Linked DNA regions of Homo sapiens. The protein of the gene in region 1 purifies or fractionates together with the protein of each later gene. This does not show direct contact. Each region holds a gene or a part of one and is shown in the gene's direction. Other genes may lie near its edges.

The links.
Region 2: the proteins of CSNK1A1 (region 1) and RASAL2 purify together in Homo sapiens (affinity purification with mass spectrometry; 5 studies listed by BioGRID and IntAct, with this or other methods). This does not show direct contact.
Region 3: the proteins of CSNK1A1 (region 1) and GAPVD1 purify together in Homo sapiens (affinity purification with mass spectrometry; 7 studies listed by BioGRID and IntAct, with this or other methods). This does not show direct contact.
Region 4: the proteins of CSNK1A1 (region 1) and SNX24 purify together in Homo sapiens (affinity purification with mass spectrometry; 5 studies listed by BioGRID and IntAct, with this or other methods). This does not show direct contact.

What each region holds. Positions count from the first base shown.
Region 1 is NC_000005.10:149,541,022-149,548,883, reverse strand, and holds part of CSNK1A1 (casein kinase I isoform alpha), read left to right. Parts: intron 1-3,039; exon of another isoform or gene 3,040-3,614; intron 3,615-7,862.
Region 2 is NC_000001.11:178,453,811-178,461,672, forward strand, and holds part of RASAL2 (ras GTPase-activating protein nGAP), read left to right. Parts: intron 1-636; coding exon 637-838; intron 839-2,889; coding exon of another isoform or gene 2,890-2,910; coding exon 2,911-3,089; intron 3,090-3,872; coding exon 3,873-4,734; intron 4,735-7,862. UniProt on the Homo sapiens protein: Inhibitory regulator of the Ras-cyclic AMP pathway.
Region 3 is NC_000009.12:125,298,964-125,306,825, forward strand, and holds part of GAPVD1 (GTPase-activating protein and VPS9 domain-containing protein 1), read left to right. Parts: coding exon 1-143; intron 144-3,019; coding exon 3,020-3,863; intron 3,864-6,099; coding exon 6,100-6,186; intron 6,187-7,862. UniProt on the Homo sapiens protein: Acts both as a GTPase-activating protein (GAP) and a guanine nucleotide exchange factor (GEF), and participates in various processes such as endocytosis, insulin receptor internalization or LC2A4/GLUT4 trafficking.
Region 4 is NC_000005.10:122,848,613-122,855,612, forward strand, and holds part of SNX24 (sorting nexin-24), read left to right. Parts: intron 1-7,000. UniProt on the Homo sapiens protein: May be involved in several stages of intracellular trafficking.

The sequences.
Region 1 (7,862 bases):
TACTTACTGTTTACTGGAGCCTCTTCTTTAAGACGGAGTTTTCGCTCTTGTGGTCCAGGCTGGAGTGCAATGAATGGCACGATCTTGGCTCACTGCAACCTCTGCCTCCCGGGTTCAAGTGATTCTCGTGCCTCAGCCTCCTGAGTAGCTGGGATTACAGGCGCCCGCCACCACGCCTAGCTAATTTTTGTATTTTAGTTTCACCACGTTGGCCAGGCTGGGCTCGAACTCCTGACCTCAGGTGATCTGCCTGCCTCGGCCTCCCAAAGTGCTGGGATTACAGGCATGAGCCACTGTGCCCGGCTTTTTTTTCTTTTGAAACGGAGCCTTACTCTGTTGCCCAGGCTAGAGTGCAGTGGCGCAACCTTGGCTAACTGCAGCCTCCGCCTCCCAGGTTCAAGTGATCCTCCTGCCTCAGCCTCCCAAGTAGCTGGAATTGCAGAGCTGCACTACTACGCCTGGCTAATTTTTGTATTTTTAGTAGAGCTGAGGTTTTGCCGTGTTGGCCAGGCTGGTCTCCACCTCCTGACCTCAGGTGATCCACCTGCCTCAGCCTCCCAAAGTGCTGGGATTATAGGCGTGAGCCACCGGGCCCAGCCTGTTAGCCCCTTTTTCTATTCCAGTTTGTATTTTTCATGTCTTGAATTAAGGACTGGGTTGCATAGTCTTTACATGGAAACAACTCAAATAAAACTGTCCTTAAAAAGAGTTCCAGCCAGGCGTGGTGGCTCACGCCTGTAATCCAAGCACTTTGGGAGGCCAAGGCAGGCAGGTTACTTTAAGTCAGGAGTTCAACACCAGCCTGGCCAACGTGGTGAAACCTCGTCTCTACTAAAAATACAAAAATTAGCTGAGCATGGTGGCACGTGCCTGTAATCCCAGCTACTCGGGAGGCTGAAGCAGGAGAATAGCTTGAACCCGGGAGTCGGAGGTTGCAGTAAGCTGAGATGGCGCCACTGCACTCCAGCCTGGTGACAGAGCGAGACGCCATCTCAAAAAAACACAAAAAAACACAACAAAAAAAAAAACAAAGTTCCAATGCTGATTTACAGTTTTAATGGAGAATTGAGTGATAAAATGTGCTATTGGTTGTAAATGAGCAAGTAAATCATTTGGAAGAAAGTTGCAAATTTATCTTATGAGGTGAAGATTAAATCTGAGATGATATAGATTTGAAGTTTTTAAATCATTCTTGCCTTTAAAAAAAAAACCTACTATGTGGGAAAATAAGGCCCCTCACCCCTGATTTGCTTTCCATTACTATAGTTTTTCCTAGAATTTCATATAAATGGAATCATACGATATGAGGTCATTTGTGTCTGGCACTTTTCACTTAACATAATGTTTTTGAGATTCATCTATGTTGGGAGATTTTATAAATTTCACAAATCAGGTTAAATTTAATGTATTTGAAATCAGTTTCAAAAAGCATTAAGCATTGTCATTTTTCAGTGCTAAACCCAAGTACAGTACATGTCCTTTTATCTGGTAGCTTTTATTTAAGACCTGATACAGACCCATAAGGGCAATGAGTAATGTACTGAATAAGCACATGAATAAATTAACTTCTGAGCAGAATTATAGTAATAGGTGCCTATTATAAGGTGGTGAGTGCAGAGAGAGTTATGGTAGTTATAAGCTGTCTGTGGGTGAGGCTAAACAGATTAACCTGACTTTCAAGTTAAGGCTTCCTGAGAGATGGGATTTCAGGATCTGGCTCTAAGGAAGAAAGCTTGGTGAACTGGTTTGGTAAGGCATCCAAGAATAGAGTGTGGCTTCTGGGTGTAGTCTCTAAAGGAGAACACAGTAATTGGATGAGAGTGTGGAAAGGGTAAATTTGCTTTAGGAGTGGTAGGGTCAGGTACATGGAAACAAAAGTGGTTCATTGGTTTTAAAGTGAAATGTAAAAAAAAAACTGTTTCCACTGAAGCAAAAAGGATAAAGATTTATGTAAACATTCTTTATTTGGGTAGCAGCATCTTCCCATCCCCCTCAGTTTGTTCCCCACTATTTCTGTATCACCTATACATGGTACATACTTAATAAATATTTACTCGGAAAGTATTGAATTAAGTTGACTATTTAGTGTTAGCTAGATAAAAGTTATGTGTTATCTATTGTTTTAGAAGTATTGTCACTAATTTAAAAAATTTAGATTTTGCTGCCTTTATCCTTCATATACAAATTTGTTCAATCCCTTCCCTATGTTTTCTGTTACAAAATTCCCTATAGGATTTGCTTTTTTTTTTTTTGACATGGAGTCTCACTCTGTTACCAGGCTGGAGTGCAGTGGTACAGTCTTGGCTCACTGCAGCCTCCACCTCCTGGGTTCAAGCAATTCTCCTGCCTTAGCCTCCTGAGTAGCTGGGACTACAGGCACGTGCTGCCACGCCCAGCTAATTTTTGTATTTTTAATAGAGATGGGGCTTTACCATTTTGGCCAGGATGGTCTCCATCTCTTGACCTCGTGATCTGCTCGCCTCGGCCTCTCAAAGTGCTTGGATTACAGGCATGAGCCACCGCACCCAGCCAGGATTTTCTTTAAGATACTTTGGTATATCTTACAACAGAGACTGAAAATTACCTGGCCTGCGTAGATGACCTGCTGAATCAGGTCCTTCCTGTGTAATTTGAGAGACCTATTGTTAAGAAGCATAGCATCCTGAGTAAAGAGCAAGGATAAGCCGGGCGCCATGGCTCACGCCTGTAATCCCAGCACTTTGGGAGGCCGAGGTGGGCAGATTGCCTGAGCCCAGGAGTTGGAGACCAGCCTGGGTAGTAGAGACAGGTGAAACCCTGTCTCTACTAAAATACAAAAAAAAAAAAAATTAGCCTGGTGTGGTGGCGTGCGCCTGTAGTGCCAGCTACTCAGGAGGCTGAGGCAGGAGAATTGCTTGAACATGGGAGGCGGAGGTTGCAGTGAGCCAAGATCGTGCCACTGCACTCCAGCCTGGGCGACAGAATGAGGCTCCGTATCAAAAAAAAAAAAGCAAGGATAAGAGAATGGCATCCATTTTCTTGATATTTTAAGAAATGAAGCTTCCGGTTCTAGGCACTTGGAGAGCCGCGGCTTAAGGTACAGACATGGCCAAGTCCACGAACCACACCACACACAACCAGTCCTGAAAATGGCACAGAAATGGTGGGCTCCAGGTTCCTGAGGAACATGCACTTTGCCAAGAAGCACAAGAAGGGCCTAAAGAAGATGCAGGCCAACAATGCCAAGGCAATGAGTGCACTTGCTGAGGCTAGCAGGGCCCTCGTAAAGCCCAAGGAGGTTAAGCCCAAGATCCCAAAGGGTGTCAGCTGCGAACTCGATTGACTTGCCTACATTGTCCACCCCAAGCTTGGGAAGTGTGCTTGTGTCCGCATTGCCAAGGGGCTCAGACTGTGTGGGCCAAAGGCCAAGGATCAACCAAGGCCCAGGCTGCAGCTCCAGCTTCAGTTCCAGCTCAGGCTCCTCCCAAAGGCTCTCAGGCCCCTACAAAGGCTTCGGAGTAGGTATCTCTGTCTGCCAACGTGAGGACAGAAGGACTGATGCAACCCCCCTGGGCTGCCGTCTTTATGGGGCTGGGGTCCTCCTGTGCTATTAGTACAAATAAACCTGAGGCAGGGGAAAAAAAAAGAAAGAAAATTCTTGGACCTTGTCAATTAATATGTGAGAGCTCACTTAAAATTACAGTTGACCCTTGAACAGTGCTGGGGTTAGGGGCACTGAACCCCAGCCCACTCCCACTGTGCCCCACAGTCAGGAATCCAAGTGTAACTTTTTTTTTTTTTTTGAGATGGAGTCTTGCTCTGTCACCCAGGCTGGAGTGCAATGGTGTGATCTTGGCTCACTGCAACCTCTGCCTCCCAGGTTCATGGGATTACAGGCGCGCCGCCACACCCAGCTAATTTTTGTATTTTTAGTAGAGACGGGGTTTCACAGTGATGGCCAGGCTAGTCTCAAACTCCTGACCTCAGATGATCCACCCACCTCGGCCCGCCAAAGTGCTGGGATTACAGGCATGGACCACTGCACCTGGCCCCAAGTATAACTTGACTCCCCAAAAGCTTAACTACTACTAGCCTACTGTTCACTGGAAGCTTCACCAATAACATGATTGGTCAATAACTATATATATATATATATATATATATATAAAGCTCTTTACCCTCATCATCCTCACTTTGGGCTGAGGAGGAAGAAGAGGGGTTGATCTTGTTTGGGTAGCAGAGGCAGAAAAAAACCTGTGTACAAGTGGACCTGTGCATTTCAAGCCCCTTTTGTTCAAGGGTCAGCTGTATTGAGTTTCTGTTAAAACCTTTTTTTGTGTGTTCCATTCTAAATTGAATTAAGTTCTCCAAAGGAACAATTTAAAAATTTTTTTAAATTTTTTTTATATAGATGGGCTCTTGCTATATTGCCCAGACTGGTCTTGCATTCCTGAGCTCAAGTACTTCTCCTGCCTCAGCCTCCCAAAGCGCTGGGATTATAGGCATCAGCCACCGTGCAATGACCCAAGAAACAACTATGACATACCGAAAAATTCTTTATCTAGATAGGTTTTGGAGGTTTGAGCTGTAGATCTGCCATGTGATATTGACTGGGTCATCTACAGTCAGTCAGTTCCTTAATGTGTGTAAGCCCATCTGTTTCCTCATTTAGAACATAAAAAAAGGATTGTTCTAATGGGAAGGAGAGTGCTGAATAGAAAGATTTAGGGCTGCCTACCCTTCTTTTGCCAGCTAAATACTCATTTCCATTTGCCTTTGCATACTGAGCTTTTGGGTAGGGTTTTGTTTGAACAAGGGTTCCCTACTTAAAAGTGTCACTGGCCTCATTGATCCTAAGGACTTTTAGTCCTGGAATTTTAAGACCTATTTTCAAAGGATAGTAGCTAGAAAAAAAGCATTCCAGCAGTTTGATATTGTGTCTACTACTTGCCTTCCTTTCTTGTTTTTCCTATTTTTCTTTCATCTTTTATTATTTTTATTTTTAGCGGCAGGTTCTTGCTCTGTCACCCGGGCGGAGTGCAGTGGCTATTCAGAAGTATGATAATAGCACACTACAGCCTCAAACTCCTGGACTCAAATGATCCTCCTGCCTCTTAGCCTCCTGAGTAGCTAGGACTGCAGATGAATACCACCTCTCCCAGCTGCCTAGTGTGTTTTAATCACTATTTTTGCCCTCTGTGTCTGAAGGTCAAATGTTTTAGAACGTATTTATAAAGCACTAGTTAATCCTTACTCTTCACTTTTAAAAGCAGCTTAATCTTATCTTTGGCACTGAGCATATATCCTGTGAATAACATAATGGCTGTTATCAGAGAATAAAGATGACGCTGCATTGGATATGTCTTCATTAAGATATATTACAGTGTCCATGCTTAGCTTGGACTAAAAAAAAAAAACCAGAAAAACGTACGTCACAGATCACGAGAAATGTGCTTTTTAACTTGAAGGGAAACTGAATTCATGGTATACTAGAGCTGCTTTATACTGGCTTATGAGATAATGTAATAATGCTAGGTAGCATTTTAAGCTGGACAAAATGTTAGAGATGTATATAGCCCTATTCCTACTAATACAAATTAGACTGTTGAATCTCAGGGGAGTTACTGGAGTGTCCTAACTTCCAGTTCTTCTGAGAATCATTATCACCCTTATGTCAAGGTCAAATCATGCCCTCTCACACACTCCACATCGTTTCATTTGATACTGGAGAGCCATCCTGTACTTCTTCACTTGTTGGCATTTTGCCTCATAGACAAGCTGAAGAGCTCTTACATAAATATAAGTAACCTATTTGTATTTAATTAGATGCTTACGATTCAGGGTGTTCTTATTCTCCCTTTTGAATCTGTGGATTGCAGGATAAAAACTTGCTGGAAATTATTAATTTGTGGCCAGGCGCAGTGGTTCACACCTGTAATCCCAGCACTTTGGGAGGCCAAGACGGGCGGATCACCTGAGGTCAGGAGTTCGAAACCAGGCTGGCCAACATGGTGAAACCCCATCTCTACTGAAATACAAAAATTAGCCAAGCATGGTGGTGTGTGCCTGTAGTCCCAGCTACTTGGGAGGCTGAGTCAGGAGAATTGCTTGAGCCCGGGAGGCAGAGGTTGCAGTGAGCTGAGATCATGCCACTGCACTCCAGCCTGGGTGACAGAGCGAGCCTCTGTCTCAAAAAAAAAAAAAAAAAAAAATATATATATATATATATATACATATATATATATATATATATATATATATATACATATATATATATATATATATATATATATATATATATATATATATATAAATTTGTATCTCATTTCGGAGTAAATGCTTGAACCCATGTAAAGTATGTGGGTTATTCCTTGGCTTTAGTCAGTGGTCCCCAGCCTTTTTGGCACCAGGGACAGGTTTCGTGGAAGACAGTTTTTCCACAGACTGGAGCAAGTAGGGGGTGGGGTGGGGGTGGGAATGATTTTGAGATGATTCAAGTGCATTACATTTATTGTGCACTTTATTTCTATTATTATTACATTGTAACATATAATGAAATAATTATACAACTCACCTTGATGTAGAATCAATGGGAGCCCTGGGCTTGCTTTCCTGCAACTACCTGCTTCCATCTGGGGGTCATGGGAGACAGTAACAGATCGTCAGGCATTAGATTCTCATAAGGAATGCACAACCTAGATCCCTCTGATGTGCAGTTCACAGCAGGGTTTGCGTTCCTATGAGAATCTAATTCTGTTGATCTGACAGGAGGCTGAGCTCAGGCGGTAATGCCAGCTTTGGGGAGTGGCTGTAAATACAGATGAAGCTTCACTTCGCTTCTATACTGGATACCGGTCAGTGGCCCAGGGATCAAGGATCCTTGGCTTTAGTCATTTCTGGACCTAGATCTTTTTTTTTTTTTTTTTTTTTTTTTGAGATGCAGTCTTTCTCTGTTGCCCAGGCTGGGATGCAATGGCGTGATCTTGACTCACTGCAACCTCCACTTCCCAGGTTCAAGTGATTCTCCTGCCTCAGCCTCCTGAGTAGCTAGGACTACAGGCATATACCACCATGCCTGGCTAATTTTTTTTAGTAGAGATGAGGTTTCACCATATTGGTCAGGCTGGTCTCGAACTCCTGACCTCAAGTGATCCACCTGCCTCGGCCTCCCAAAGTGCTGGGATTACAGGCGTGAGCCACCGCACCTGGCTAGATCATTTTGTTTTAAAGTATATTTAAGCTGTACCTAAAATATCATTAAGTCTTGGTTTTCTCATGATCTGTCACTGTTCACCAGGGATTTTTGCTGTCAAGAATGAGTGTCTTCATAACTTTCATCATTTAACTTGGTGTTCAGTGTATGCACACAGGTAAAATGATGCTTTATTGTGTTACTGTTTTTGTTTCTAATTTCAATCTCAGATGGCTCTTAAAATTTTGGTTGACTGGCCGGGTGTGGTAGCTCATGCCACACCTGTAATCCCAGCACTTTGGGAGGCCAAGGCGGGCGGATCACTTGAAATCAGGAGTTTGACACCAGCCTGGCCAACATGGTGAAATCCTGTCTCTACTAAAAATACAAAAATTAGCTGGCCATGGTGGCAGGTGCCTGCAATCCCAGCTACTCGGGAGGCTGAGACAGGAGAATTGCTTGATCCCAGGAGACGGAGGTTGCAGTGAGCTGAGATCACGCCACTGCACTCTGGCCTGGGTGACAGATGGAGACTCCATCTCAAAAAAAAAAAACAAAATTGGTTGACCAGTATTAACATAGCATAAACTAATGCATGTTTTAGTGGGATTTTTATTTTTAATTTTATTTTTTGAGATGCAGTCTTGCTCTGTTGCCCAGGCCAGAGTGCAGTGGCGCAATCTTGGCTCAC
Region 2 (7,862 bases), on another chromosome or scaffold:
ATTGGAACTTCAGTGAACAGATTGTTTTCTAGTATAAGTGGTGGCTTTTTAGAGGTGTACTATTTTAATTTTGTATAATTTATATATAAGCCAATGCAGAAATATACATATTTATCGATATTTGAGCTAAAAATATTTATATTTTATTTTGGAACAGGTTTTATGGACTTAAACTAGGCCCTGCAGATAGCTAGAATCTAGATAGGCAAAGGAGAGAAGTTTTTCTCTAGTGCAAGTAAATAGCATGGGCAAAAGCTTGGAGAAGAAAAAAATGTGTAATATATTTGGGAGACTTTGTAGAAGCTAGCAGTATTGAAGGTTTGTACTGGTGAGCTTTTGGTAGGTAAGTGAGGGCTATATTGCAGAGAAATTTAAATCCCAGAACTAAAAAAAAAAAAAAAAAAAGGAGTTTTGGCTTTACCCTTTAGAGAGAATAGAAAGCTATTCTCAAAGCATTAGAATATTAAAGTGATATTAAGAAAGTATGTTATAACATTTATCACTTATAGATAATAAACAAAATTAGTCATTCCCTCCACAAAATAAAAAAAAGTAATAGTTCTGTGTAATGTCAAATCAAAATGATCATATCTCTCTTGAATATGTTCTTTCTCATTTTCTCATCCTCTACTTCAGGTTTGGTAACAAAGAGGAATACATGGCATTCATGAATGATTTTTTAGAACATGAATGGGGTGGAATGAAGCGCTTTCTTTTGGAGATCTCTAATCCAGACACCATCTCAAACACCCCAGGCTTTGATGGTTACATTGATCTGGGCCGAGAGCTTTCAGTTTTGCATTCCTTACTGTGGGAAGTAGTTTCCCAACTTGATAAGGTAAAGTAGGTTGGTGGAAGATAGAGAACTTTAATGTACCTGAATTCTGGAAAGTAACTATAGAGTGATAGCACTCACTCTTTCTGCTAATTGAAAGCAACTGTTTACCCTAGAAATCTGAGAGTAAATGGTCATCATTTCTGAGTAAAATATGAGATCGACAACCATGAAACTCTAGAAAACCATGACATTATTAATATATGTTTTTAATAATTATCTGAATTAATGGAGTATATTTCTCTAAATTTATATATACAGAGTGCATATCTGAAAACTTGACTAGAAACTAATATATTGGTATATACAGCCTTATGCATGTCTAATAGGATAAGATGAAACCTCATATAGTAATTTCTAATAAAAGTATAGATTTAGCTAAGAAAATACTAGGTTTATCATGTTTTAAGTAACTACCCATGAAACAAATTTTTTTACTATACAAGTCATAGAGTTTCATATAATTATTAGTGCTAACAGTCATTGTTTTCTTTCTTTACAGATGTGAATTAAGAATACAGAAAGCAATTATTTTTAATCGTTTGCTAAGAATTTTATTATATACCGTATTAATAAGTAAATATACACCATGCCAATCATTTTCTTCCTTCTGGAATTTAACAAAAAGGAATAGATTTGGTAGTAAAAAATAGTCTAAAAGACGTTGGCTAGGCTTATTACAATAATTATTTATTGATGTTTTTGTTTGCTACAGGCACTTTATAAATATGTGTGGTGGTATGTTAGAATAACTTCAAAAGACAGTCATTTTTCTATGATAATGATCTACTTATTTTCCTCTATTTTCCTATCAATAAAAATGCTATATCAGTAAAATTTGAAGGGGAATAAAACCTATTAACAAAGACCACTTTGCTGAGGAAACATATGTGGTAATGTGTCCTCCAGTGCTTAAAATATTTGTAAAACAATAAACTGTTCCTTATTCTCGAGGACCTTTTCTTCACTTTTAGAAATGCTAGCTAGATTTTTAAGTTGCAGCTATGCCAAAGATAAACCCTTTTCATGTGAATCGTAGCCCAACATTATTGAGCAAGTAAAGGCCTTGGTGGCATCTATCCCTGTTTGAGTAGGGTAGAAGAGTCTGTTGATTGTTGAGAAGGCAAAGACCCAAAGGCAGCTATGCCAAACTGACTGACAGTTGAAGGGGACCCCTAAGACCCCATGAGAATAAGAATTCCCTAAATAAAAAAATGATTGAAATGGATAAAGCAAGTATTAAAGAGTTCGTCTTTGTTGAATAACTGCATCTCAGTGGAATGCAGATTCAGTTTTCCTGTGAAATGGGCCTGGTTTATTCAGGATCAAAGTCTTTTTAACGGGCTTTGCTATGTAAACACACTTTCTCCTTTTTAATCTGTGTTTGGTCCTGGGAACCAGGAATACATCTAGACATATCTCATAGAGGAAGTTTACCTGATTTTGCTGTTAAATTAACAATAAAAATTGTCTTACTGATGGAAACTCAGTTGGCAGTGGGTCAGGGTTCCCAAGATTGACTGGGATAGTGGATGGCAGTATCATCTGTGTGCCCTGCAGTACTCTGGATTCCTGAATGAGCACCTTCTTATATGTTGGCATGCATTTCTTTTCTCACATGATCCCTTTTCTTTGAAAGTTTATCATACTAGTTGATCCTCTGATCTTGAAGTTCTTTTGGTTAGAAGGAATTTGGTTCTGCCTCCACCCTCCCCCACCTTGATCTACTAGCCTCCCAAAGATTTAGTTTGCTTCGCATGCCTATTTTAGTTGGAATGGCATTAGTTTGGTAGTTTTGAGCATGTCTTTTAATTTTTACTTGCATAATCCTGATTTCGATTTCCTTTCTTTCCTCGATGTCTGCCGCACCTTGTTTCGCCTCCTCCATTCATCTCGACGCCATGGTTCTGCTGCTCCATAACAATGCATTATGAACCTGCCACTCCCATATGCAAACACTTACCCTTCCCTCCAACCTACACCCCTCCATCAATGGCCATCGTTGTGCCAAAAACAATCTGTGGTGGATGTCGCAATGCTTATTATCCAATTAGGGTGAAAATTCCTTCCTACAGGCGACCGTGGCAAAATTGGGGCCTCTCCCTCGTGTTCTTGCTGATATTACCAAGTCATTGACTAATCCTACGCCAATACAACAGCAACTGAGACGCTTCACTGAACATAACTCCAGTCCAAATGTCAGTGGAAGCCTCTCCTCTGGGCTGCAGAAAATATTTGAAGACCCCACTGACAGGTATGAAAGAGAGAATTTGACCACTATCTCGGAGAAACATAATGTTTAGATTTAGCAGAAGTATATTCAACCTATTTGTTGAATTTACAAGTTTAAAATCATGAGCAACTGAAGACTCATCTGACCTGAGAGCAGTCCAATTATTTGTCATAATAATGCACAAGATCTGGGATGACTTATTTTCTAGAATGGTAGTATAGAGAGTTACAATATATTCCACAAGCATATTTTTAAAATTTCTGTCTTGCTTAGTGGAAGACTAAAGGCTTTATGAAATTCATGTTTCTGTACGTTATAGCATTCAAAATCTTGGAGAACCTCGGTTAAAACCATTTTATAGCTGGCTATGTCAACTGGACAGGTAGATACAATGTCGATGCTTAGACTGTTTTAGGGATTGGCAAGACTTGTGCCTTTTGCAGGGACCTTTCAGTTGTGTGCTTAGAACTTCTTCTCTTGAAGGTTTAGACAAGTAAGTATGAATTGGAATATTTGGGGAAGGTTTAAAACCTAACTAGGAAATTATTGGAATCCTGGTTAAAACTGAAGACAGTGATGGGTTGGTATCTACAGTGTTATTCTGTACCTTTGGGGAAAAAGTAAAAATGCTGGATTTTATTCTAAGCATTGTAATAATTCCCTAATTAGATAAAATCTGAGTTTCCAAAGAAATGTACGTATCCACATAAGAACCTTCGGAGGAGTTCATATGCCTGAATTGAGGCATCTTAGCCATGTTGAAGTTGTCTCAAGAGAAATTAAGTGTCCTTTCCTTTTCCACAGTGATTTGCATAAACTAAAATCTCCAAGCCAGGACAACACAGACAGCTACTTCAGAGGGAAAACATTATTGCTGGTTCAGCAAGCCTCCTCTCAGAGCATGACTTATTCTGAAAAGGATGAAAGGGAAAGTAGCCTTCCTAATGGTCGGAGCGTCTCCCTCATGGACCTCCAGGACACTCATGCTGCTCAAGTGGAGCATGCATCTGTCATGCTTGATGTGCCTATACGCTTGACCGGAAGCCAGCTTTCCATAACCCAGGTGGCCAGCATCAAACAGCTGCGGGAAACCCAGAGCACTCCCCAAAGTGCACCCCAAGTGAGAAGGCCCCTGCACCCAGCCTTGAACCAGCCAGGTGGCCTTCAGCCCTTGTCGTTCCAGAACCCTGTCTATCACCTCAATAACCCAATTCCAGCAATGCCAAAGGCCTCTATAGATTCCAGTTTGGAGAACCTAAGCACTGCCAGTTCCAGAAGCCAAAGTAACAGTGAAGACTTCAAGCTCAGTGGACCCAGCAATAGCAGCATGGAAGATTTCACTAAACGTAGCACTCAGAGTGAGGACTTCTCCAGGCGGCACACGGTGCCAGATAGACACATACCTCTTGCTTTGCCACGACAAAATAGTACTGGGCAGGCCCAGATCCGAAAAGTGGACCAGGGTGGGTTAGGTGCCCGAGCCAAAGCCCCACCATCCCTGCCACACAGTGCTTCTTTACGTAGCACCGGGAGCATGTCAGTGGTGTCCGCAGCCCTGGTGGCCGAACCTGTGCAGAATGGGAGCCGGTCCCGGCAGCAGTCCTCTTCCTCCAGAGAGAGCCCTGTTCCCAAAGTTAGAGCAATCCAGAGACAACAGACACAGCAGGTAGGTGTGAGTGCTGAAGGGGCCTGGCTTCTACTTGGTCCATCTGTTTCCTTGGTTCTTTATACATAAATCATTGGGAAATCCTATTGTTAACAAGATTTCCTCTTAAAAGCAACCTTTAAATGGAAAGAGGAAAGGAAAAATTTGGGAGGCTTCTGCCCAGGTGTGACTACAGAATGTAGTTTGACTCATTACCCTTAAGAGTCTAACAAACACGCAGAGGCCCCCTTCCTTCTCTTCAAGCAGCAGAGCTGCTACCTCAGTTTGCACTTAGAGCAAATCTATGATGTTGAATGAATAATTAGATACTTAAAATCTGTAGGCAAAACCAGCTATTATTTTGGAAATCTGAAAATTAATCCTTCTTAATTTTTTTTCTTAAGCTTCCAGAATAAAGGTTTGCATTCCGAGCCAAGAGTTTAATATGACTGCTCTCCATTCCATCCCTCAACTCCTTCTGGAAATACAAAGTCCCATGTGGCTTTTCCTGGAAATAGCTAGAAAAATAAACACTTGAACACCTGTAGAGTCAAGGTAAAGGAGAGAGTAAAAAGATAGAAGCACAGGTGGAAAAGGAAGTATTCTAAACATCTGCAAATCCCTTACATTTCTATTTACATGGACAAGCCCAGCTAACATCACATCCAATCTTAATATAAGTTTTTCTAATTTTTTTATTGACAAATAAAAAGCTTTGCCAAGAAACTAATCATTTCTTCCTTAAATATTACATTTTGAAGCATCAATACATATTTTTCCCTTTGAAACAAACTACTGTTAAATATATAATATACACATTCATATAATTTTTCATGTATATAATATATATCTTTATATATCTTTCATCTAAAAAGATTTTTCTCCTAAAAAAGCATTGTATTAGTTGAATTTTTTTTGAAACCTAATGATAGTACTAAAAAACTTGAGATTAAAAGAGTTCTATGACAAATCCTTTTATGCAGCAAAATAACTGGGCAGGGAGACTGCAATAAAATCCTAGTTTGTATCTGTTATATATTTGCATTTTTACAGTTTAGGCACTTACCTATATGGCTGCCTCTGCCTCCAGTCTGCTATGATCAGAGCCCCTTGCACCTACTTTGATTTTTTAATTGGATTATTTATAGAATCCTTGGATACAGAAATAGAAGAAGGGATGAAAAGCATGACTAACTTAAGCTGTTTCTGGAAGCAGACTTCCTGGGCTAAACCTCCTAGTTGGTCATTTTTTACTGAGTAATAAAGTTTTTCTACAGTCTTAAATTTTTCATTTTTATTTTGTTATATTTCCCAAAATTTTACCAAATCATTTGATTTAGTAAGCATTTTTATTTGAAGAAAAGGAAAAATAGATATCTTTTATATGTATCATATGTATTTTTTATATATAAATGTGTATGTGTATATAAGCATAAAATGTATGTGTTAGAAGGCTATCAGTCATTCCTACCTTATTGTGAAGTAGTTTCCTCACATCACTTTTGTGCTAGATTCTAGTTGCGATCAACTACTTTCAGAGAATTAAGATGTTTATTGGGAGGAGAAAGGAAAAAATACATAATTTTAGAAATCAGAATACTGTGTAGAAGCAAATATCTACTCAGGGACTTAGGGCAGCACAAGGGCACTGAAGATAAAATAGGATTAGCGAAGAGCATGAGATCTGGCAGAGAGGGACAGGACAGGGAAAGTGTCCTCCACCTGCTTTTCAAAAGTGTACTTAGGCCCAGCCCTGTACAGAAAAGGAAAATAAAGATTCTTTTTTTTTTCTTTTGCTTACCCTTTCCTTCTGTATCATGGAGGGCCTATGACTCAGGCTGGTTGTTTATTAATATTATAAATTAAATAGCCTTTTTTGTGCTCATCTGGAACCAGTTGTCATTTATAACATTTTTTCTTTAGGAAAATACAATACCTATCGCATAAGCACATAATACATGTTTCTGTGGGTTATGATTAGAGGGCTGCCTGGATGGATGGGAGGTAGGAAATGCATACAGTCTCCAAACAACCAATATAAAAATTAGTTTTTGTGTCACAGCCATTAATGAGTCACCAAATATATTTTTTGGCATGAAGTGGGGTACAGGCACAGTGAGATGTCCAGGTACAGCTTTGAATATTAATCTTTGTTTATACTTTTGCTGGTACTGCCACTGTCCTATCAGTTGAAGCATAAATCACCGTATTTTGATTGCTCAAGTTTCTTTTTTTTTTCCTACACTGGCTTTTGGTTCATTGTTTTGAACTTACATTGTTAGTTTTTTATTTTTATTTTTATTTTTTTGAAACAGAGTCTTGCTCTGTCGCCTAGGCTGGAGTGCAGTGGCACGATCTCGGCTCACTGTAACTTCCGCCTCCCAGGTTCAAGCAGTTCTCCTGTCTCAGCCTCCTGAGTAGCTGGGATTACAGATGCCCACCACCACGCCTGGCTAATTTTTGTATTTTTAGTAGAGGTGGGGTTTCATCATGTTGGCCAGGTTGGTCTTGAACTCCTGACCTCAAGTGATCCACCTGCCTCGGCCTCCCAAAGTGCTTTGATTACAGGAGTGAGCCACCGTGCCTGGCCTAGTTTTTTATTTCTTATCTGTTTCTTGCTTGCTTTGTTCATCTCACTCCCATGAAGCCTCTGAAGTTCTATATAATCAGCACATTTTTAAGGCAAATTCCTTTACATATTTTAATTGCAAATTGTGTTGGGGAATTCTCTCCCAGAAACTAGAGGATTTCTTTGTGGGGATTGTTCTGTAGGCGGCTGTAATTATCAGTAGCTTTGTCCCATGCAAATTCCATTTATATCTTAGCACAAAGTAGTGGCCATTGTCTGCAGAGTAACTGGCTTCAGTCTTCTACGTCTAATGAGTAGGAAGGAAATAAAATCCTGGTGAAAAAATTCACAGATAAATTTTTTTTCAAGAAACTCTCTTAATTTTTTAACCCATTTCAGCCTCTGTTTGTATTGCTTTTTTCTTATTTTCCTCTCTATTTTGTTTTTCATGTATCATCTACTTCGTACAAACAGTAGACTTTATATATATGAGTTGTTCAGATTTATCATGTACTCTAATCTTAGAAATTTGAATTTGAAGAGACCTTTTAAAATAGATAATTGACAAGCCTGTTAATAT
Region 3 (7,862 bases), on another chromosome or scaffold:
CAGGAACGCTTATATGTAAACTCTGAGAAACAGCTCATTCAGAGGCTCAATGCAGATGTACTTAAGACAGCTGAAAAGTTGTATCGTACAGCATGGATTGCGAAGCAACAGAGAATCAATTTGGATCGGCTTATCATAACCAGGTAAAGAGATGATTTTCAGGTTTTAAGTTTTGTGAACCACTATGATTCTGTAAATAAATTAGTAACTATAAATAAATGAATCTGTTTCCAACAAAGTGCATTATTTAAGATAATTTACATCAATGTTAAGGTGAGTCTTTGCTTATAATACAGTTTATTTGGATTATTAAGTAACTTAGGCACTTTTATAGAAAATTGTAACTTAAGCATTGACATTTTATATCACACCAATTGGTTTTGTGTCTTTGTCTATATAAAATGTTATTGTTGGCTGGGCGTGGTGGCTCACACCTATAATCCCAGCACTTTGGGAGGCCAAGGCGGGTGGATCATGAGGGCAGGAGTTTAAGACCAGCCTGGCCAAGATGGTGAAACTCCGTCTCTACTAAAAATACAACAATTATCTGGGCATTGTGGTAGGCGCCTGTAATCCCAGCTACTCGGGAGGCTGAGGCAGAGAATTGCTTGAACCCGGGAGGTGGAGGTTGCAGTGGGCCGAGATTGTGCCACTGCACTCCAGCCTGGGCCATAGAGCGAGACTCTGTCTCCTCAAAAGAAAAAAAAAATGTTGTTGTAGAGAGTAAATTATCTGTTCTGCTTTTCTCCTAATATTATTTAATATATAGGTTTCCAGCTGGGTGTGGTGGCTGACACCTGTAATCCTAGCACTTTGGGAGGCCGAGGTGGGTGGATCACGAGGTCAGGAGTTCAAGACCAGCCAGGCCAAGATGATGAAACCCCATCTCTACTAAAAATACAAAAATTAGCGGGGCATGGTGGCATACGCCTGTAATCCCAGCTACTCGGGAGGCTGAGGCAGGAGAATGGCTTGAACCCGGGAGGTGGAGGTTGCAGTGAGCCAAAATCGCACCACTGCACTCTAGCCTGGGTGACAGAGTGAGACTCTGTCTCAAAAGAAAAAAAAAAAAAAAATATATATATATATATATATATATATATATATATATATATATATATATATATATATGTATTTCCATGTTTTGATATTGTATAGCTATTTTTCGGGTTTAGAAACCACATTTTATTGTCTTAATACCTACGAAGAACATTTATTTTATTTTTTTTTTTTTTTGAGTTGGAGTCTCGCTCTGTCCCCCAGGCTGGAGTGCAGTGGCACAATCTCAGCTCACTGCAACCTCTGCCTCCTGGGTTCAAGAGATTCTCCTGCCTCAGCCTCCTGAGTAGCTGGGATTACAGACTTGTGCCACCATGCCTGGCTAATTTTTGTATTTTTAGTAGAGACGGGGTTTCACCATGTTGGTCAGACTGGTCTTGAACTTCTGACCTCGCAGTCTGCCCCCTCGGCCTCCCAAAGTGCTGGGATTATAGGTATGAGCCACCCTGCCTGGCCAAGAACAGTTTTTAACTCTAAGAATATCAGTGCTGTTGAGAATATAAGCCAGATGCAAAAGAATACATACTGTATGATTCTATTTGTATGAAGTTCAAAAAGAGACAGGACTGATCTTTGATGACAGAAATCAGAATAATGGTTACTTTTTGGGCTTGAGAGGGTGGTATTGACTGGGAAAGGGCACGTGAAAGCGTTCTTGGGTTTTTAAAATGTTCCATGTCTTAATCTGAGTGGTGATTACTGGGTGCATGTATGTGTAAAAATTGTTCAAGCTGAACACTTGACATTTGTGCACTTTACTGTATTTTACCTCAATAAAAATGAGTTTAAAAAAAAAAAAGAACAGTGCTGTTGTGGGCATTGTGGTTTTTTCCCCACATCTTTTAGGCTTATTTTATTTGGATTTGTTTCCAGAAGCAAAAAGCCTAGTTAAAGGATGTGATTCTGCAGGTCATTACATACTGGCATGTTGCTGTTGAGAATGGTTGAGCAATATGCTGATATCGACTTCATTTTTATTATTTTTTAGTACTTGAGTATTTGTAAACTTTCTTATGTCCATAAATAAGCATAAGCAGTTTAACTGTAGCTGATTTTTTTTTTTTTCAGACAGGATCTGGCTGTGTCGCCCAGGCTGAAATGCAGTGGTATGATCTTGAGTCACTGCTGTCTCAAGCTCCTGAGCTCAAGCGATTTTCCCACCTCAGCCTCCTGAGTGCTGGGCCTACAGGCACACGCCACCACATCTAGCTAATTTTCATATTTTTTTGTAGAGATGGGGTTTCACCATATTTTCCAGGCTGGTCTTGAACTCCTGGGCTCAAGTGATCCTCCCACCTTGGCCTCCCAAAGTCTGGGATTACAGGTGTGAGCCACTGTGTCCTTCCTGTAGCTAATTTTAATTTAATCCATAAGAGGGCAGCTCTGGACAGTTTTTAGGATCTACAAACTGATAATTTTCTTTCTTTCTTTCTTTTTTTTTTTCCAGACAGAGTCTTGCTTTGTTGGCCAGGGTGGAGTGCGGTGGCATGATTGCAGCTCACTGCAACCTCTACCTTCTGGGTTCAAGTGATTCTCCTGCCTCAATTTTCCAAGTAGCTGGGATTATAGGTGCCTGCCACCATGCCTGGCTAATTTTTGTATTTTTAGAAGAAATGGGAGTTTCGCCGTGTTGGCCAGGCTGGTCTCGACCTCCTGGCCTCAAGTGATTTGCCCGCCTCGGCCTCACAAAGTGCTGGGATTACAGGTCTGAGCCACCGCACCCAGCCCCAATACTTTTCATTGATTCTGATTTGATAAGAGGAAATTGTCCTTTGTACTTTTTAGTTTTGTTGTCCTTTACTCATTGAGTTGCTGTTAGTTTAAAAAATTTTAGCAATTCAGAGTGACCTCATTGTTGGGACCATAATCAACTCACATATCCATGTTTGGATATAGTATATGTGTTATTATTATTAATACTATTATTTTGCTTGTTTGCTCTTTTTTTTTTTTTTTTTAGTGCTGAAGCTTCCCCTGCTGAATGTTGCCAACATGCCAAAATTTTGGAAGATACACAATTTGTTGATGGGTATAAGCAATTGGGATTTCAGGAGACTGCTTATGGAGAATTCTTGAGTCGATTGAGGGAAAATCCTCGTCTTATTGCCTCCTCTTTGGTTGCTGGAGAGAAACTTAATCAGGAGAACACACAAAGTGTTATTTACACAGTTTTTACCTCCCTGTATGGCAATTGCATCATGCAAGAAGATGAAAGCTACCTCCTTCAGGTTTTGCGATACTTGATTGAATTTGAACTTAAAGAAAGTGACAACCCTAGGCGACTTTTGAGGAGAGGAACTTGTGCCTTCAGCATCTTATTTAAACTTTTTTCTGAAGGACTGTTTTCTGCCAAACTTTTCCTCACAGCCACTTTACATGAGCCAATTATGCAACTGCTTGTTGAAGATGAAGATCACCTGGAAACAGATCCAAACAAGCTAATTGAGAGGTTCTCTCCATCTCAGCAGGAAAAACTCTTTGGAGAGAAGGGCTCAGATAGATTCAGGCAAAAAGTTCAAGAAATGGTGGAGTCCAATGAAGCAAAGCTAGTGGCTTTGGTGAACAAATTTATTGGTTATCTCAAACAGAACACATATTGTTTTCCACATAGTTTAAGGTGGATCGTGTCTCAGATGTACAAAACCCTCTCCTGTGTAGATAGGCTGGAAGTTGGGGAGGTCAGGGCAATGTGTACTGATCTCCTGTTGGCCTGCTTCATTTGTCCTGCAGTTGTCAATCCAGAACAATATGGAATAATTTCCGATGCTCCTATTAATGAAGTAGCACGATTTAATCTGATGCAGGTATGCTTTTGCTATTATTATTAACGTGGCATTTAGTTTAAAATTCAGTTGATTGGGCTGTGGGGGTGGGAACAAATAATACGATGACAGTATTTGTATATTCTTACAACTTTTTCTCAACCAGTCCTAAGTATTTGCATCTTATTAAATAAAAGCAGTAATACTGGGATTTAAAATTATTGCGGTCACAAAACATTTTGTCTTTGTCTGTTTTTTGAGACAGGGTCTCACTCTGTTGCCCAGGCTGGAGTGCAGTGGCGCAATCTCAGCTCACTGCAACCTCCGCCTCCCGGGTTCAAGCAATTCTCCTGCTTCAGCCTCCTGAGTAGCTGGGATTACAGGCGCACACCACCGCCCTGGCTAATTTTTGTATTTTTAGCCATGGGGTTAAAATTTAGGTCAGGCTGGTCTTAAACTCCTGACCTCAGATGATCCGCCCACCTCGGCTTCCCAAAGTGCTGGGATTACAGGCGTGAGCCACCACTCCTGGCCTTGGGTGATTGTTAAAAAATGATTAGCTCAAGCTGGGTGTGGTGGCTCTCACCTGTAATCCCAGCACTTTGGGAGGCCAAGGTGGGTAGATCGTTTGACATCAGGAATTTGAGACCAGCCTCAGCAACATAGTGAGACCCCCAACTGCCCCATATCTATTAAAAAAAAAAAAAATTGGCCGGGTGCGGTGGCTTACGCCTGTAATCCCAGCACTTTGGGAGGCCGAGGCGGGCGGATCACCTGATGTCCAGAGTTTGAGACCAACCTGACCAACATGGAGAAACCCCATCTCTACTAAAAATACAAAATTAGCCAGGTGTGGTGTCACATGCCTGTAATCCCAGTTACTTGGGAGGCTGAGGCAGGAGAATTGCTTGAACCCGGGAGACAGAGGTTGCGATGAGCTGAGATTGCACCGTTGCACTCCAGCCTGGGCAACAAGAGCGAAACTCCGTCTCAAAAAAAAAAAAAAAATCAGAAAAAATGATTAGCTGTTTTTAATGATCAGTTATATCACCTTGGGATGTTTAGCAATTCACTGTATAGAAATGCCTGAAATAAAATTTTTAACTTTTTTTAATGTTTATAAATTTAAAAAAATTATAATATGGAACACTTCACAAATTTGTGTGTCATCCTTGCACAGGTGCCATGCTAATCTTCTCTGTAGAGTTCCAATTTTAGTATATGTGCTTCTGAAGCGAGCACAAAATTTTTGACATGAAACAGTAGGTTTTTTTTTGTTTGTCTGTTTGTTTTGAGATAGTCTCACTCTGTCACCCAGGCTGGAGTACAGTGGTGCCATCTTAGCTCTCTGTAGCCTTTGAACTCCTGAGCTCAAGTGACCCTTCTGCCTCACCCTCCTGAGTAGCTGGGACTACAGGTGTGTACCAGCACACCTCGCTCATTTAAAAAATGTTTTTGTAGAGACAGGGTCTTGCTTTGTTGTCCAGGCTGGTCTTGAACTCCTGGCCTCAGGTAATCCTCCTATTTTGGCCTCTCAAAGTGCTGGGATCATAGGCGTAAGCTACTGTGCCTGGCCCATGAAACACTTAAATTTATTCTTATGGTAGATAATGTATTTGTAGTTTTTTTTGTTTGTTTTTTTTGTCATTCCAGTAGAGATCAAATTACATATTTTCAGAATCAGTAAAAAGGGGGCTTGTCCCAGATATTAAGAAGAGGATGTTGTAATAACTTTCATCATTAGCCTTTAAAAAGAGTGCAGTAACAAATTTTGCCAGTAAGGTACTTGTTCTATGAATTAGTATTTACTTTATCAAACCAGCTTATGTTAGGAATCATTTGCTTTTAAATCTAGGGAAAAAATTATACCTTGATTGCTTTGTGAACGCTATAAGGTAATGTTCTTAATATTAACTTAAGGCAATTTAATGAATGAGTCAGCTTTTACAAATTAATTTAAAAAGCTCTAAACAAATGAAAAGTACAATGTCAGAAACAAATGTATTGTGCTTTTTTTCCCTAATGTTGATATCTTATGTGTTAAAGAGAAATTAAAGCAAAAATTTATACTTTCTCTAACTCTTAATCTAAAAATAGTAAAAGCTGACATAAGGTACACATTTTTTGGGGGATACTATTTCATATGCCTGGTCAGGTGATATGAATAGTATTATGAAACAGATTTTTAGAACAGAATAGACGTGCTTGCTTTCATAGAGACGTATTTGTGAGTATCTGTCTGTAGCTTATGTCTCCCTACCACTGCTTTGGGTTGCAGGTAGGCCGCCTTTTGCAGCAGTTAGCAATGACTGGCTCTGAAGAGGGAGATCCCCGAACAAAGAGCAGCCTTGGAAAGTTTGACAAAGTAAGAATAAATATGATTTATAGAAAATTCTGAAGTATTAGTGAGCCTAACTGTTCTCTTTATTAAATCTTGTCCTTAGGTGATATCTAAATTAAATGTTCTTTTAATTAGCTACAGTATTGGATCAGCAGCATTTAAAGATGATTAATTCCCACAGATGTATTGAGGAGATGCCGTCGTAAGAGAATCAAAGAGCTGTTAAGATTATTTTATTTTAAAAAGTTTTTTTTTTTTTTTTTTTTGAGATGGAGTCTCGCTCCGTCGCCCAGGCGGAGTGCAGTGGCATGATCTTGGCTCACTGCAACCTCTGCCTCCGGGTTCAAGCAACTCTCTGCCTCAGCCTCCCCAGTAACTGGGATCACAGGTGCCTGCCACTACACCCGGCTAATTTTTGTATTTTTAGTAGAGACGGGGTTTCACCTTCTTGGCCAGGCTGGTCTTGAACTCATGGCCTCGTGATCCACCTGCCTCGGCCTCCCAAAGTGCTAGGATTACAGGCGTGAGCCACCGCGCCTGGCCAACTTTTAAATTTTCGAGTCAGTGTCTCACTCTGTTGCCCAGGCTGGAGTGCAGTGGTGTGATCATGGCTCAAACTCCTGGGCTCATGCAGTCCTTGCACCTTAGCCTCCCAAGTACCTGGGCTATAGGGGCACACCACCATGCCCGGCTAAGTGTTTTTATTGTTATAGAGACGAGGTCTTGTTATGTTGCCCAGACTGGTCTTGACTCCTGGCCTCAAGTGATCCTCCTGCCTCAGCATTCCAGCGTGCTAGGATTACAGATGTCAGCCACCATGCCTGGTCGATAATTGTTTAATTTTAAGTGTAGTTTATAAGTTAACATCTATGACATTGTTCAATTAATATAGTTAAATAAAATTTTAATCAGTCTTACTTTGATTAAGCTGTACATTCAACCAATGAAAATTCAAGGATATTTGAGTAAAATTTCCCTTCCACGTCTCATCTCTAGTCTTCATTCCCTGCCCCCACAAAACATTCTTTTTTTTTTTGAGACAGAGTTTCCTTCTTGTCACAGAGGTTCGCTGTTGTCACCCAGGCTGGAGTGCAGTGGCGTGATCTCGGCTCACTGTTAACTCTGCCTCCCAGGTTCAAGCAATTCTCCTGCCTCAGCCTCCGAGTAGCTGGGATTATAGGCGTGAGCCACCACGCCTGGCCCCCAAAAGATTCTTGATGTTATTAGGTTGTTTTTCCTTCTAGAGGTCCATATGTTTACAGGCAAATTCCTACGTACACTATATACTTCCAACCATCCCTTCCTTTCCCTTTCAGAAATAGTAGCACAATGTGTATACTGTTCTGTGTTGTGTTATGTTTGTCTCCAACATCTTATTGTTATTTTCTTTTTTTTTTGAGACAGGGTCTCACTTTGTCACCCAGTGATGCCATCTCAGCTCACTGCAGCCTCGACCTCCCTGGCGCAAGCAGTCCTCCCACCTCAGCTTCCCAAGTAGCTGGGACTGCAGGTGCGCGCCACCACACCTGGCTAATTTTGGTATTTTTCATAGAGACAAGGTTTTGCCCTGTTGCCCCAAGTGGTTTTGAACTTCCGAGCTCAAGCAGTCCACCCACCTTGGCCTCCCAAAGTGCTGGGATTGCAGGCATGCACTACCACACCCAGCTCCAAGATCTTAGACTATATCAGTACAAAAAGAG
Region 4 (7,000 bases), about 27 Mb from region 1:
ACAGGCGAATCTCTTGAGCCCCGGAGGCGGAGGTTGCAGAGAGCCGAGATCGCGCCACTGCACTCCAGTCTAGGTGACAGAGCAACACTCCATCTCAAAATAAAAAATAAAAATAAAATTTAAAACACATTACATCACATTCTAACAAATTCAGTAATAGGAAGTTTAAGGTAGAAATGGGTGGTTTCTCCTCTTTGCTTCTAGTCTCATTCCCCCAGAAGTAAAGTTTCTGGGTGTATCTTAGAATTTTTTCCTTGTGCTGTGAGCACATACTTTTTTTTCTTTTAAAAAAATAAATGGCAAGATTTTAGTATAGCTGTCATCTTACAATTTATAGACATCTTTCAATATTGATATGGAGAGGTCTGCCTCCTCTTTCTAACTACTGGAGATGGGCTCTACCACGGTAGGATGTGCCGTAATTTTTTCCCCAGGTATCTGCTGATGGCCAGGAAATCCTTGGACATGATTTTTTATGCCCACTACTAGGATTTCTGTAGAACCTTAACTAGAAGTGGTATTTCCAGCCCTTTACAGTTTTTACAGATATTGCACGATTGTTATTCAAGAAGTTTATACAAATTTATTCTCAGTGTACTAAGTAATTTACCTTTAAAGAATGAATTTTTGCCCTTTAAACATGTAAAGCTTTATTTACTGTGGGCCTGTACTGTGTTGGTGGCGATTTAAAGATGGAAGGGTGGTGTTCCTGCCCTTAGGGATTCTCAGCCCATATAGAAGCTGCTCAGAGCTAGGCCGGGAAAGGTTAGGGTGACCCAATGTCAGCTGGAGCCTTGTATCCAGGGGCCTGAGGGAGGGAGAGGTCAGTTTGGCCTGGCAGGGTGGCTGTGCTGAGGTGGGGGTGCTTAGGAAATGCTGACTTTGAAATCTAATTAGGTTTTTGCTAGGATTGTGAATTTTAGAAAGAGGAAATACAGGACAAAATCTTATAAGCCATTTTAAAACTCAGATATGCCCCCAAAAAAGGGGGGGGGAGGGGCACCTCTAAATAAGTTTGTGAAGAAGTAGGAGATGGTAGTGTAAGAAAATGCAGATGCACCCAAATGTTACTTCCTGGGGAGATTATTCTGTCCCATTCCCTACCCAATGGCTTACTTATTTAATATCCTCTGCTATAAACTCCCCAAGTATCCCCAAGCTATAAACTCCTTGAGGCTAGGTAGTGTCCATCTCCACTGTTGTATCCTAATACAGAATTCAGTACATGTCTGTTGAATGAATAATGAGTGATGTAATCTTCATAGGAGGAGAGAAACCAGAAGAGCAGTGATCTTGAGGTGTGTAGCAGCTCAGAGAGTTAGGTGGAGGGTTGTGCTGCAGACTGGAATTTCAGGATTGTGCGAAGTGATTGCAGTAAGAATAGTGGGGAGAGATCAGCTGACTCCCCTTGAGAGCTATAAGGGAGTGTGGACCTTCAGACAGGGAAGTCATAGGAGAATTTTAAGGAAGGAAGTAACATGATTAGCTTTGCATTTAGAAAGATGACTATCTTAGTTCAGGCTACTTTAACAAAATACAATCAACTGGGTAGTTTATAAACCACAGAAATTTATTTCTCACAGTTCTGGAGGCTGGGAAGTCCAAGATCAAGGTGCTAGCAGATTCAGTGTCTAGCGAGGGTCCATTTCCAGGTTTGTAGGTGATCCCTGCTTGTTGTGTAGAAGTGGCAAAGATCTCACTGGGACCTATTTTATAAGGTTACTAATCCCAGTTATGAGGGCTCTGCCCATGACCTCATCACTTCCCAGAGGCCTTACCATCTAATACCAATACATTGGGTTTAGAATTTCAGCATGAGAATTTGGGGGAGACAGTCAGACTGTAGCGATGATTCTGGAGTATTCATCATTTAAGAGACACTTAAAAATGATCAGAAAGGAGAGGATGAAGGCTAGAACTAAGACTTTAGCGTTGAACATGGAAAGGAAGTGATGACTGCAGATATCTCCAGTACCTGGTGACCAGATGTACAGCAGCAGTGTGACTACCGTGGGTGCAGGTACCAGTAAGCAAATAAGAACTGAAGCAGGGCAGATATTTCATTTGGGCACCCACTGAGTTTTTGGTGATGGGTATAGCTATTTGATTTTGGAGTCTAGGGTGGATTTAAGTCTGGCTTAGAAATATGGCTCTAAGGGGACATTCAGCATAAAAGTTAAAAAAAAAAAAAAAAAACCCACAGAGAAAGAGTGAGGAAAGAGGGAGGGCCAAGGGTAAAACCTTAGAACTTGAATAAGCAAAGAAGTCCCAGCACAGAAGCCAGAGGGAGAAAGAAACCAAGGAGTGTGAGGCTGGAAGAGAGAGGGTGGAAGATGCTTTACAAGAAAGAAAGTGCCAGATGCTCCTGAGTGGTCTTGCAAGTTGAGGATGGACAGCAGTCCATTCTAAGAACTGAGAATAATAGGTCTTGGATGCCACTGTAGGCTTGTAGTTTGAATTTTAAGATACATTGTTGACAAAAATAACAAAACTAGAATTACTACTTAGGTCACAATACAAAAGTATGAATGTATTAGACTTGAGTTTTTTGGTTTTGTTTTTGATTTTTTGAGACAAAATCTCCCTGCGTCACCCAGGCTGGAGTGCAGTGGTGTGATCTCGGCTTACTGCAGCCTCTGCCTCCTGGGTTCAAGCTGTTCTCCTGCCTCAGCCTCCCAAGTAGCTGGGCCTATAGGCACGAGCCACCATGTCTGGCTAATTTTTTGTATTTTTAGTAGAGATGGAGTTTCATCATGTTGGCCAGGCTGGTCTTTGAACTCCTGACCTCAAGTGATCCACATGCCTCAGCCTCCCAAAGTGCTGGGATTACAGGCATGAGCCACCACACCCAGACTTAGACTTCAGTTTTTATAGCTGTAAAAATCACAGCGTTGAATTAGATTCAAGTCCATTTTAAGTACCTGCGTGACTGCATGTGTTATGCGTAGACATATATATCTTCTTGGGACCTGGATACTATCACTGATTTACTTAATAAACACTTAGAAATGTAGCATGCTCTTCAGTACACAAGGCAGCTTCTTATATATAGGATCATAATGTGAAATATTATTATGATCATTATTATTTTGAAGCTTTTATGGATTAAACTACAAAAATAGAACAATTTAATAAACTATCATTTACCCATTACCTTCAATATTTTATAATTCTTTCATTCACTACACCTCAGTCCCTGTCTTTAAAAAAAAAATTCTGGAGTATTTTTAAGCAAATTCAAAACAATTTTATCTGCATAATTTTACAGTGTATACCTGACAGGTAAAAACTTTTAAAAAGCATAACCAAAATGTAAATATTACCGCAAAATTATCAATACCTTAATAGCATCCAGTTTCTGGTTGTTTTTGTTGGTTTTAAAATAAGCACAATGTAAACCCTGCCTTGGAATTAACAGTGATTTGTGTGCATTTTATTGGTACTGTAGTGCTATTTTATATATGTGTGTGTGTATAAATATATACACACACACATATCTATCTATATCTATATCTATATATATATGTATATATTTCTTTTTTTCTTTTCTTTTTTTAAAAATTTTATTTTACTTCAAGTTCCGGGATACATGTGCAGAAAGTGCAGCTTTGTTACGTAGGTAAACATGTGCCGTGGTGGTTTGCTGAACTATTTTGTATTTTTGAGAACAAGTCCGAGACACTGAGTGAGGGAGCCTGGCTACCTGAGAGTGACTCTTCTGTTTCAGAATAGCTTCTTTTTTTTTTTTTGACAGAGGGTTTCACTCTGTCGCCCAGGCTGAGTTCAGTGGTACAATCAAAGTTCACTGCAGTCTTGACCTCCCCAGGCTCAGGTGATTCCGCCACCTCAGCCTCCCAAGTAGCTGGGACTACAGGTGCATGCCATCATGTCCGGCAAATTTTGTATTTTTGCTAGAGATAGAATTTCACCATGTTGCCCAGGCTGGTCTCGAACTTCTGCGTTCAAGTGATCCACCCACCTCAGCCTCTGAAAGTGCTGGGATTGTAGGCATGAGCCACCATGCCCAGCCGCATTTAATAGTAAGGACACTTTTCTCCCTAGAACCCCTGAGCAAATAAGTCTCCCTTCAGTTTCTTTCTCATTAGCCCTAGTTGATTTTTCAACACAGAATTGCAGAGGAATTCCAGTGCCAATTTGCTGAGGCCAGGGTTATCTTAACCAACCATCATGGCAAGGAGGGTAGGTTAACCAGATGGAGTTAAAATAGGAGGCATCTCTGGAACTGGGAATGGGTTAGTCCATTCCTGTCACCAAACCCCTCAGGCATCACAGTGGGAGAAGGGCAGCAGGATGTCAGGAAGACCACAATTCCACGCCATGTCCTTCAGTCATCCATTACCAGCATGTACAATGAAGGAGGCCATTGTGTAACAAGGACGTAGCTGGCACAGTGCCTCATTCATGGTAGGCTCATAGCAGAAGCCCACATTAAATATTTGTTGAATGATTAAATCAAGCATGTGTAAAATATGTTCTTTAGCCTTTTTTTTTTTTTTTTTTTTTTTTTTTTGAGACGGATTCTTCGCTCTGTTGCCCAGGCTGGAATGCAGTGGCACGATCTCGGCTCACTGCAAGCTCCGCTTCCCAGGTTCACGCCATTCTCCTGCCTCAGCCTCCCGAGTAGCTGGGACTACAGGCACCCGCCACCAAGGCCTGCTAATGTTTTGTATTTTTTAGTAGAGACGGGGTTTCACCGTGTTAGCCAGGATGGTCTCGATCTCCTGACCTTGTGATCCACCCGCCTCGGCCTCCCAAAGTGCTGGGATTACAGGCGTGAGCCACCGCGCCCGGCGGTATGTTCCTTACCCTTAAGGACAAGAAATACCGTTTGAAAACATTCTTCTTGAACATTAACAAACTTAGAATGGTACATTCATTTAAGAATTAAAATAGGCACAAGAGGATTGAATTTTGGAAATATGTTGCTTAGAAATTTGGGGGCACAAGCAAGCTTGTTTTCATTGAGCTAGAAATATGTTTTAACTTTTTTTTAGATGTTATTTTCAAATTTATGTATTTTAAAAAATTTTTTTCGTACAGGTGAGGGTCTTGCAGTGTTGCCCAGGCAGGCCCTGAACTCCTGGTCTCAAGCGATCCTACCGCTTCAGCCTCCCAAGATGCTGGCATTACAGCCGTAAGCCACTGTGCCTGCCTTAAGAACTTGAAAATAAACCAAATAAGTTATTTTGTTCTTCAGCCTGTTCCACTAGGAGTGTACAATCAAATGACTGGTTTTAAAATCACTTGGATTGGTTCTCTACTTAAAACACAAGCTAGCTACCCAGTCTTGTATTTTGTATTTTTAAGAATTCTTAAAAAACTAATTTTGTTTTGTATTTGTGTAAAGCATAGTCATAATTCTAAATCAAACACACTGCATCGAGTTTATCTACTGAAATTCAGCATCTGCTTTTGTCCTCACTTTGTTATCTTCTGCTCTCATCGATTACTATTTAAAAAAAAAAAAGTGGTATGAGGCTGTCCCCAGCACTACACAGATGAAAGGGAATTATTTTTTCTTCTGTATATAGAAGCCCTTACTGCTAGCAGATTTATGGGATCAAAAGATGCATATAAAAATAATCATAGTGTAGGCCGGGTGCAGTAGCTCACGCCTGTAGTCCCAGCACTTTGGGAGGCTGAGGCGGGTGGATCACGAGGTCAGGAGATCGAGACCATCCTGGCTAACACAATGAAACCCTGTCTCTACTAAAAATACAAAAAATTAGCTGGGCGTGGTGGCGGGTGCCTGTAGTCCCAGCTACTTGGGAGGCTGAGGCAGGAGAATGGCGTGAACCCGGGAGGCGGAGCTTGCAGTGAGCTGAGATCATGCCACTGCACTCCAGCCTGGGCAACAGAGCGAGACTCTGTCTCAAAAAAACAAAAAAAAAAAACAAAAAAAAAAACATAGTGTTACTTATGTAAAAAAAAAATCTTATGGCTTATCCTTCCATTGAAAAAAATATAAACACATACTAATATATTTGTGTCTCCACTCCTTTTCTTAAACAGTGGTATACTAAAACATTTTATTTCAACTTGCTTTTTTTACTTAATGATATATCCTGGAGATCACTGCACAGGGACATATATGAAGATGTATCATTCTCTTCTGTACAGGTATACCTCAGAGATATTGTGAGTTTGGTTCCAGACCACTGCAGTAAAGTGATTATCTTAATAAAGCAAGTCACACTAATTTTTTGGTTTAATAATGCATATAAATGTTTACACTACACTATAGTTTATTAAGTGTGCAGTAGCATTATGTCTAAAAAAATGTACATACCTTAATTAAAAAGTATTTTATTGCTAAAAACTCTAATGATCATCTGAGCCTTCACTGAGTGGGAATCTTTGTTTGCCTTGATGTTGATGGCTGCTGACTGATCAGGGTGGTGGTTGCAAAAGGTTGGTGGCTGTGCCAATTTCTTTTCCTTTTCCTTTTTTTTTTTTGAGGCAGAGTCTCGCTCTGTTGCTCAGGCTGGAGTGCAGTGGTGCAATCTTGGCTCACCACAACCTCTGCCTCCTGGGTTCCACAATTTCTCCTGCCTCAGCCTGCCAAGTAGCTGGGACTACAGGTGCAGGCCACTATGCCCGCCTAATTTTTGTATTTTTAGTAGAGACGGTTTCACCATGTTGGCCAGGCTGGTCTCGAACTCCTGACCTCGTGATCTGCTCGCCTCAGCCTCCCAAAGTGCTGGGATTACAGGCATGAGCCACCACGCCCAGCCGACTGTGCCAATTTCCTAAGACAATTAAGTTTGCCCTATCAGTTGACACTTCCTGAAACATTTCTCTGTAGCATGTGATGCTGTTTGATAGTATTTTACCCTCAGAAATTCTTCCAAAATTGGTTTCAGGTGTCTGGGCATGGTGGCTCTAACTTGTAATCCTAGCACTTAGAGAGGCCAAGGCAGGAGGATTGCTTGAGTCCAGGAGTTTGAGACTAGCCTGGGCAACCTCATGAGACCCAATC